Linked DNA regions of Homo sapiens: region 2 is linked to region 1. Evidence: fine-mapped expression QTL. Tissue or cell type: testis. Region 1 holds a variant in brackets; the other region holds the start of a gene. All regions are shown on one strand. Distances are between the middles of the regions.

Region 1 (5,226 bases):
AGCAAACGCCAAGACCAGGGCTTTTCCTCTGAGCCAGCCAGTTGTTAAACATTTACCAGCACAGCACAGCCCCTGCCCCACGGCATGCCGAATGTGGCCTTGATCGAGACAGACAGAAACCAGTGTGGGGCCTGGAGTAGCTGCCAGCTGCGGTGGACAGAACCAGGCTGCCTTGACTGAGTCCTGGGTTCTAGTCCAGGCCGGAGCTGTGATGTAGAACATTACCTCGAAGTACGGGGAAAACCTATCCATTAGGCTAGTGGCTCATGAAAATGTTTAATTTCTTTTAAATTCAGAAGAAAAAAATGAGAATAATAATGACTATATAAGTGTGAATCTGCCCTGAATTATATCTGTGTTTTTACCAATACAGTCCTAAAATATAATCTTCACTGTTTTATTTTTGGAGGGAGGGGTGCATGGGCCTTTTTTGGTCAGGGGATAGGGCTGCCAGGAGGGAATCCAGACTGTCACTGTGCTGACAAGTTTGCACAGTTAGTGTTACTGCTAGAAACTTAGGAATTGCCTCAATTCTCATGAATAGAGAATGATGTTCCCCCTCCCAGCTGGAATATCATGCAGCCATAAAAATAAGCTGTAAAGGATCAATTGCACTGTGGAGAGCTCACGAGACAGTGTGTGTAGTATTTCAGACTTGGTGCTAAAGGATCAATTGCACTGTGGAGAGCTCACGAGACAGTGTGTGTAGTATTTCAGACTTGGTGCTAAGCAACTCGTAATTACCTCTGTGGGGAACTGGCTGGGATGAAGGCAGGAAGGGAGGAGGGAGGAGAAAGGAAAACAGGTGATGCGTTATGCTAGTGGGATGCAGCATAGGCTTCATTGTCCTTTTTCAACCCTATGCAACACTTCATTCCTTTTACATATTTATTCATTCCTTTTTCTCTTCATACCCACTTTCATTTCCCACCTCTATAAAGTAACCATTCTGATGTGTATTTTTTTTTTCCAAAATGAGTATTGTTTGGCATGCTGGTGTTTTTAATATATGTTTAATATGAGACTGAACAAATATATCCTTCTGGTTCTTATATTTTCATGAAGGGCTGTGTTTTTAAGATCTCTCCACGTTATTGTGTGGATCCACACTTATTACCTCTTCGTCCTTCCAGTGACGGGCACTCGGTGTCCAGGTGTTCTAGAGGGAGCTTTCAATGTCCCCAGGCACTGATAGTTGTTTAGGTTGTTGCTGGAAACATGGAAAGATCAAACAAATGCTAAACGTGCCCCAGCCCTGAACCGAATCCCTTAAACACTCATATAAACTCCATAAACCCACCTCCTCGTTATGAACAGACTCATCTCCCTTCTTGCTGTCTGTCATGAGAACACTACAGCCTTCCCTATGTACGTTTCCCTAATAAATGCTTTGGATGGATACGGATCACCCCGGCGCTTAGTGTTTATTTCTTTGGAATTCCAACTGGCCCTACCTCTTGACGGTTTGGGGCAGTCTTGAGGGAACTCCCCAGCAGACATTGGGTGGGCTGGACAGACCACTCAGATTTGCTACCAGCTCCCTTCCATCACAGACAATGCTACACAGGTCTAGAGGGGTCTAGATCTGGAAGAATGTTTCTTCAAGATAAACAACCAGTAGCAAGATTGCTGGCTCAGCAGAAGCACTGTGTTTTTCTCCAGGCAGCTGAAGCAGTCTAGACTCTCCCTGGCTCCCATATCGTCCCTGCCCATTGGTACCATCTAGCTTTCTAGTTCATCAGTTTAATAAGGATACAATGAGGTCTCATTGTCATTTCAGTCTGCAGCTCTCTGATGACTAATGATTTTAAATGTGTCTTCATGAACTAATGTGTTAGTTTTAGGTATTTCCTCCTCTGAAAATAATGATGCCACCTTTGTCACGTATTAAATCCCCCAGGTGTCCATGGGTCTGCCTCTGAGCACTCTGTGCTGTTCCACTGATCTTCTTTCCTATCCCTGCACAGACACCACGTTGCATTTACCAAACTGGCCTTGTAATATCTTTATGTCTAGAGGTCAAGTCTTCCTTCTATGCCCCTCTTTCTGTTTTTTCTTTCTGAGACAGGGTCTAGCTCTGTCGCCCAGGCTAGAGTGCACAGGCATGATCTCGACTCACTGCAACCTCCACCTCCTGTATGCCCTCTTTCATTAAGATTGACTTAGCTATTTGAGGTCTATATGCCTCCATATCAATTTTAAAAGTTTCTGGAGAAGCAAAAAAAAATAAATTAGAATATTTATTTTTTTCCCTTATTTTATTTTATTGTAGAGACAGGGTCTTGCTATGTTGCACAGGCTGTTCTGGAACTCCTGGGCTCAAGCAATCCTCCTGCTTCAGCCTCCCAAAGTGCTGAAATTAGAGATGTGAGCCACCGTGCCCGCCCCAAAATCTTTACTGTAATTTCATTGAATTCATTAACTGATGAAGGATTTATATCTTTTAGTGTTGCCTATCTGACAGCATGGAGCAAATAAGTCTTCTTTTTTCCTGTGTATTTGTTATGTTGTAATGAAAAAATACAAGGAATGAAGAGATTTGGGCAGAAGAGAGAACCAGGCAGGAGCCATGGCAGAAGGGACCCTCTCTGTACCCAGGACCTGATGAGATGATGGCCAAGGCAAAGCTCTGGCTTTGTCACATTCATTCTGGGCCAGGCAGGCCAGGCAGTGGGCAGTCCTTGCAGGCACTGTCTCATTTATTCATTTCCTTCATTAACCCTGTGGGGCAGCTACTGCTGTTTCTGCTTTACAGGCTCAGTAGTTGAAGAATTTGCCCAAGACAAGTTGCAAAGACAGAATTTGAAACTGGTGAACGGAGATCAGGGTCTGTGCTCCCACCTGTGATGATGGCCCACCTCCTAGGTTGCTATTGCTGCTGTGCAATGACGGAGGAACTCCATCCATCTGCTCTGGGCTTTGGGGTGTATTTTCACCATAGCCCCCTTGGCCTTATGGGTGCTCAACATGGCACTTGGAGCTGCTTTTGCAGGAACCGCAGGTGATGAGGAACTCCAGCCCCTCAGCCCCTGCCTAGCCCCAGGATGGAGAGCAAGCCAGAAAAGCAGTGCACCCCCAATGCTAGCCACACCTTCTTATCTGCCCTCTCCTTCTGAGCCAGGAGGCCCAGCCATCCAGGACTTG[C/T]GGTCTTGTTGGTCCCACAACAAGCACTAAGCATCCCACTAAGCAGTTTGGGAAACTCTGCAACCCAGGATTTTCCTTGAGACTGGGGGCTGGGACCAGATGATAATTCTTATTCTTCTTCTTTTTTCTGCTTCCTCCTCCTCCTTCTCCCTCCTTCTCCCTCCTTCTTCCTCCTCCTCCTCCTTCTCCCTCCTTCTTCCTCCTCCTCCTTCTCCCTCCTTCTTCCTCCTCCTCCTCCTTCTCCCTCCTCTTCCTTCTCCTCCTTCCTTCTCTTCCTTCTTCTCCTCCTTTTTTTTTTTAAAAACATGGTCTTGATTTGTCATCCAGGCTGGAGTGCAGTTACGTCATCATAGCTCACTGCAGTCTTGAACTGCTGGGCTCGAGTGGTCTTCCTGCTTCTTCTTCCAAGTAGCTACCATGCCTAGATATATTTTTTTTTTTTAAGAGACAGAGTCTTGCTCTGTTGCCCAGGCTGGAGTACAGTGGCACAATCTCAGCTCACTGCAACCTCCACCTCCCAGGTTCAAGCAATTCTCCTGACTCAGCCTCCTGAGTAGCTGGGACTGCAGGCGCACGCCACCATGTCCAGCTAATTTTTTTTGTATTTTAGTAGAGACGGGGTTTCACCATGTTGCCCAGGCTGGTCTCGAACCCCTGGGCTCAAGCAATCCTCTTGCCTTGGCCTCCCAAAGTGCTATGACTACAGGTGTGAGCCACCAAGCCCAGTCAAGGACCAGGTGATAATCCTTAAACTCAGGGACCACTCTGGGATGAGGGCAACCCGGGGAGGCCTGGCCCTAGCTTCAACCCAGCCCATGGAGTGACCTTAGTTGGGCAGGTGGCTGGGCCTGTCTGGACCTCCATTTCCTCATGCCATTACCCTTGGCTGGTCTTTCTTTAAATCAAGGCAGGGTGGGGGAGCTGACTAACTCCTGCGGAGTCAGTGCTGGGCACTTTATTTCTGTCACTTCATTTAATGCTGTCAGGATGAGGTGAGGACTTTATAATCCCCATTTTATGGATGGGGAAACTGAGGCTCAGAGAGGTGAAGTAAAATGCCCAGGATCACACAGCTCCTAAGTAGCCGAGCCAGGATTTAAGCCCAGACCTATCAGATGGTGGAACAGCTGTTTCTCAGGTTACCATCCCTGAGGCTTTGAGATAAGGAAGTTGAGACCTTCAGTGTGAGAAACAGATGTCTGTGAAGATAAGCCCCAAAACACACCAAGTTTGTCCACCAGAACTGCTCCTGTGGCTCAAATGATGCAATGTCCACGCCCCAGAATTTCCCTTCCAGGAACACAGCGCCTTGCATAAAGTGAGGGCCCACCTTCCTGTCTTTCAACTGCTTGTGGGCTGGGAGGGGAAGCGAAGCGCATCCATTTGCAGTCAACGTCAGCACCCAGCATCCGGACGGGGAGGTGGGCTGCAGCCCGCAGCTTCCAGGGCTGTTGGGGGAGGCCTAACAGTGACAGTAACTTCTCACCTGCAGACAGGGCTTGACAGTCCACAGAGCTCCCTGGAGAGGGTCGGGGGCCGGGTAGGGAGAATGGTTGGTAAGTTGTGAGTAGAGTGAGGGATGGACTTGTGCGGTGAGGCTCCAGGGAGGGGAATGATGTCAACACTCACTGCTCCCCCCGAGGAGGGGGGTCGCTGGAGCCGGCGTGGGGCTGCCATCTCTCTGCATCTGTCTCTCCGCCACCGTTCTCCCTCTTTGTGTCAGCCTGTCTGTTAAGTCTCTCTCTCCTTCTCTCCATCTCTGTATCTCTACCCCATCTCTGCTATCTCTGCCTCTTTTTGTTTCCTACTGAGAAACCTGCATGCGATTGTGACATGGAGCCCCAGCTGCTGGAAGTACCCTGCCCAACCTAGGTCTGGCCTGAGACACCCCCCTTGGCTCAGGGATCTGCCAGGCTGGTGCCAAACTCATACATCCACTCATTCAGCCAACAAATATTTATTCAAGGTTTGCCACGAGCCAGACCCTGTGCTTGGCCTGGGCTGGAACAGTAAGCGAGGCCACCCAGGTCCTTGTTCTCTAGGAGCTCAGGTCCTAGTGGCAATGCCCAGCCTCTGCTCAGG
Region 2 (5,000 bases), 24 kb after region 1:
GGAGGGGAGATAACATTGTCAGCTTGAGGACGGGTGCCATTCTCTGCCATCCCGGCCCTGCTGTCATGAATGGGTCCAGGTGCAGGCCTCCCTCCCGGATTGCCATGAATTTCAGCGCAGGCATGTAAGTGAAGCTCTTGGCAAGCACCCTACACAGACAGGATCATTAAATATCTTTTCTGTGTTTATTCTTTGAAGACACTGCAAGCATTTCATGTAGACAAGGAGACCCTGTGCTAGGCCTGTGGGTGGGATAGCACTCCCCTCCTCTCCAGACCCTCTATGCTCCAGAGCCTGGCCTCCATGGACTGCCTCATTTGGGGGTCAGCAAGTGGAAAGTGGACTGGAGGTCAGAGGGCAGGAGGAGGGCAGAGTGGGCATTTGCCCCCACCCCGCATGGCTCCTTCAGCCCCTGCTGGCTCACCGTGAGCAAACCACCGCCATTTCCCTCCTGTAGCCACAGTCTGGCTGTAGAAGCCCAGGGGGCCACTCCCTCCTGGCCCCTTTAGACCTCACGGTGCTGAAGGCTGCCCCAGGTGCCAGCCTGCCCAGTGACCACCCTCCTTGCTCCCCGTGCCCTGCCCGCACCTTTGTCACGTGTCCCTTCATGCCAGGCCCTCCATTGCATCCACCCCTTGCTCAGCCCTAACAGCTGGGTCTCACATGCGAGCCCCCACCACACTGTGTCACTCCTGCAGACTGTGAGCCTTTTGAGGGCAGGGGCCAAGTGGTACCAGCAGGAGCAGAGGGCACCATCGATGCTTCCTGAATGAATGAATGAATGAATGAATGCGCAAATGGAGAATGGAGACTAACACATCACTGTCCACACAGGAAGTGTGCAGACCTTCCTGTGTGTAGACCTCTCAGAGCTCCTTGCTCAATCAAATGGCTGCTGCTCTGCCCCAACCAGAGCACCCACATCACCATGGGGGAAACAGCATCACCTGGAGGAGGCTTGAAGGCCCAACCAGCGATGACAGCTGGGACCTGAGGACGCCCATGAGCCCTGGTCACAGCTGCCATCGGTGGCTCCGTTCATTCATCTATCAAGGGCTGCCTGGTGGCCTGCTCTGTACCAGGGCCTCCCGGGGCCACTAGGAGGACAGTGCTGTCATCTCCCACCCTTTTTTGAGCCAGGGACTGATTCACTCCACTGAATCTTCCAATGTTTGAAAAGAAGAGGGTTATTTGAAGACCAAATAAGTTGATCTATGTGGCCAAAGTCACGCGACCACACGCTGGACACACAGGGAGATGGACATGCAGGCCCCTCACCGAGTCAGGAGCAAAAAGAGAGTGGCCTGCAAGGCCCTGAGACAGGAGCACTGAGGAGGGAGCACTAACGGGGGAGCACCTCCCTCTGTCCGAGAGGGTTGCTAAGACGCCACAGAGGCCAAGAAGGGTAAATGGAGCTGGCTAAGTGGGCAAGGGGTAGGGGGACAGCTTTCCTGGGAGAGAGGCCAGCAAAGGCAAGGCCCGGGCACTTCCATGGCCTCTGGAGACGCACCATGTGTTTGTGTGTGAGACGGGAGAGTGACGGGGAGGAGTGTGGATCCTGGCTCAGGCCACTGAGGACCAAGAGGTTGTGGCTGAGACTGGGAGAGGGAGCCGGTGTGGGGTGACATGTGCGGGAGGAGAGGTCCAGAAGAACGAGGTGACAGACCTTCCTGGCCTCAGCTTCCAGAGTGTCTGAATCCCGTCCCCAGGATCTCACAAGCCAGCTGGAGAATTGCCTGCCCGGGGCCAACCCCTGTCTCAGAGCCAGGCCTGTCAGGGAGACACAGCCCAGGTTGGGGAGTCAGGGAGCACCCTCCGACCTCCCCTATCTCCAGGGCACTGTGGAGCAACAAAGGGAACCTGAGACCAGTCCTGAGCAAGGTTTAGTGGAAGGACAGGACTGACCCAAAGGGACAGGGCTAGAGAAGGTGCTGAGGCGGCCACGGGGGGTATCGGAGGACACATCCCAGACACCCCAACTCCTCACCTTCTCCAGTCCCTGCGTCTGTCCCTGGATCCCTCCCTCGGCAGGGCAGGGTCGGCCCAGCGTGGCAGGAGGGGATGAGGTGCCAGCCACTCACCTGAGGTCGGGAGCAGGAGGAGCAGGAGCAGGGCCCCCAGGCCCCTGGGCGTCGCCATCCTTGGCCAGCCTTGCCCACGCCAGGAGCTCTGTGGCTGTCTGGCCCTCTGGCCCCAGGCTCTGCTGAGCTGGCCTGCCCCCACCCTGCAGCCCCACCACTCTGGCTTCCTGTGTCCTCTTTCTCACCCTTCCTGCTCGATGGCGCCATTGGTTGGGTTGTGAAAGGTGAGTGTGGGGAACTGGGCAGTGCTCCCAGTCTCACCGCACCCTGGGTCCACCTGCAGAGGGAGCTGCTGAGCCCACCCAGGTATGTGCCCCCGGGGCCCCACTGGGGTGGGATCTACGGGGCTAGGGGCTGGGTGGCCACAGGGGCCTGGCTCAGAGCGGATCCCTGGGAACTGTGGTGAGCACAGGCTTTGGAGTCAGGCGCACCTACTCAGACCCCTCCTCTCACAAGCTGGGAGCCTCTCTGAGCCTCAGTTTCCTCCTCTGTAAAGTGAAGATGGCAATGGGGCTGCCTCCTAAGGCTGTGTCAGGGTTTGATGAGACCTGCAACAAGCTGGGCACAGAGCCTGGCTCTGGGCATGAGGACGAAGACCCAGATGGTGCCTATGGCTTGAACCAGGCTGGAGGGTGTGGGAGGAGAGCAGGAGCTGGCCCTGCAGCCTGAGCTTCCCCCACCAGCCTGGATAACAGGACGGACCCAGAGGCAGGGTAGCGGGAAGACAGCAGTGCGGCCCCGGGGGCTGGTCAGGCCTGAGCTAACATCCATCCTGGCCACTTCCTGGCCGGGTGACCTTGCATGCACTGTCTGTCACCCTGAGCCTCCCGAGGTGTGTGATGAAATCATGGATGACGCAGGCGGAGCCGCCTGTGGCCATTACATCATTTCTGATCATCAGAGCTGTGAAATTGTTGTCTTTACACCCCAAATGGTCACTGATCAGGTGGGAGGTGGGGGTGGCAAACACTCCTGGGCTTCAGCCTAAAGGAATTAGGGCGCCAGCCACTCGGGCCAACTCTGGAGGCCCCACGGATGCACTGTGCATGAGGCCATGGCCACTTGGCAATTGGAAGGTGAAGGGCATCCCACCAAGGTGTGTGGTTGCTGGCATCCCCCTCTGGCCCACGGGGCTGGCACTAGCCCTACTCAGCCTTGGGATTGAACTGGGGAGCCGCTCAGCCCCTGCTGGCCTCCATTTCCTCCTCCTCCCACTCAGTGTCTCCTGCTGAGCCCTCTGGGTCTGGGAAGGGGTAGGGAGGGGATGTCAGGGTCACTCATGGTGTGGGAGCAGGTGGGAATTCAGCATGGAGCAGCAGGTCAGAGCCCAGGGCTTCCTGAGCCCCAGAAACTTCCTCTGCAGGGAGGGCTGCGAAGGCAGATGAATGGCTGGGCCTGCCACTGCTCCACACCTGGCCAGCCTTCTCCTGGAAGATCTGCAGACCTCCCTCCCAGCTGCAGGTGAGGGTGAGGTGGGGCAGTGGACTTGGATGTGCTGGGCCCATCGCTGAAGCCCCATCCTGGCACCTGGGCCCTCAGAGAGGCTCGCAGGTACCAGTGTGTGAAGAAGCGCCTGGGGGTGAGCAGACTGAGATTCCGAGCAGCCAGCCCACCTGGGAAGTGGGCAGAGGGCAGGTGCAGGGGAAGGTCAGGCAGGGCTGGAAGGAGGGCCACCTTTTCCTAAGGCCCCTTCCCTGAAACGCCCCCTGGGGACCAGGGACTAGCCTGGAGCCACTCACAGAACCCTGAGACCCCCCCCAACCCCAGGGCCAACAAAACAGTAGTGTCCCTTCCTGCCGCCTCCTGCCCCAGCTTCTCCCAATGGCTCCAGTGGGCAGGGCCTCAAGTCCTCCAGCGAGACCCAGCCAGCATTCAGCCCTCAGCTGCTCCAATCCATTTCCCAAGCTAAAGGGATGTTTCCAGATGCACGCCTGGCCACATGCTGGCAGAAAGGGCGATCCCACTGTCCAAAGCCCCACAGCCTGGGAAAGTGCATGATAATAACCATCGGGGTAAAAGGATCAGCATGGAACTGTTGGTGCCCTGTGCAGGGCCTACCTGAGAAGGTGAGACCCAACCCAAGACCCCTCCCCACTACCTGAGCCAGCCTCAGATGCAGAAACAAAATGTTTGAGAAGCAGGAGAATTGCGGAGGAACGGGGCTGGGTCATTTCCCCCCCATTCTGGAAGATGGGGGGAGTTGCCTCAACCCCCATCCCAGGACCTAGCCCAGCCATGGGGCTCTGAGAGACCCCCCTCACGGAGACCTAGAAGCCTGTAAGGAGGGAAGCTGGCTTTGATCCCCCGGGGCTGCCCAATCCGGACACTGGGGTAGGGGAGGCTTGGGAAGGTTTGGCCTCTGTCCTTTGGAGCTGGGGGCATAAGAGGAGCCCCCCACCTGCAGAAAGGTGGGGACAGAGGTCAGTGGAGGGAGTGGAGGGGGTGGAGGGAGGGCTGGGAGAGCAGCAGGGCACAGGGGTTCTTGGTCCCTGCAGGTCCCAAGATCCCACATTCACGCCCCTCAGAGGGCACTGCCAGTCTAGACCCAGCTGCCTCACACCCACCTTGTCCAATCCAAGACTCTGAGCCTCTTCCCCTGCTGGGCATCCCCCTAGAGTGGCCAGGGGAGGAGGGAGGAGCCTGCAGAAGGGAGAGAGTGGACTGTGGGCCTTGGGGAGGACTTTGGCTGCACTGGGACCTCTTACCTGAACACAGTAGCAATGATCCGTTGTGACTGCCCTCATCACAGGGAAGATGGGAACCTGCGTGATCTGCCTCACCTGGGCCTTAGGAGCGGGAGGAGAGATTGATTTGGTGGAACAAGGTTAAAGGCAGGGATGGGAGAGAAGTCCAGTGATTTAATTCTTGCAGCCCACCTGCTGCAGAGTGATCAGTAAACTGGTTGCATAAATCCCAGGA

The links. PIP is the estimated chance that this variant, and not a neighbour inherited with it, causes the effect.
Region 2: ADGRG3 starts here. The variant in region 1 is fine-mapped to the expression of ADGRG3 in testis (GTEx, PIP above 0.99).

Annotation. Positions count from the first base shown.
Region 1 is chr16:57,689,238-57,694,463 of GRCh38, reverse strand. It overlaps ADGRG3 (adhesion G protein-coupled receptor G3), which reads right to left. Exons shown (of 12, transcript NM_170776.5): 12 at 5,086-5,226. Among named protein-coding and RNA genes, the nearest start is that of DRC7, 3.0 kb to the left of the region's middle. RefSeq lists enhancers at 4,223-4,272, 4,323-4,372, 4,513-4,622. The variant C/T (reference allele first, on the strand shown) is at 3,145.
Region 2 is chr16:57,665,487-57,670,486 of GRCh38, reverse strand. It overlaps ADGRG3 (adhesion G protein-coupled receptor G3), which reads right to left and starts at 2,181. Exons shown (of 12, transcript NM_170776.5): 1 at 2,082-2,181. The coding sequence starts at 2,139. It overlaps ADGRG1 (adhesion G protein-coupled receptor G1), which reads right to left. Exons shown (of 14, transcript NM_201525.4): 14 at 4,920-5,000.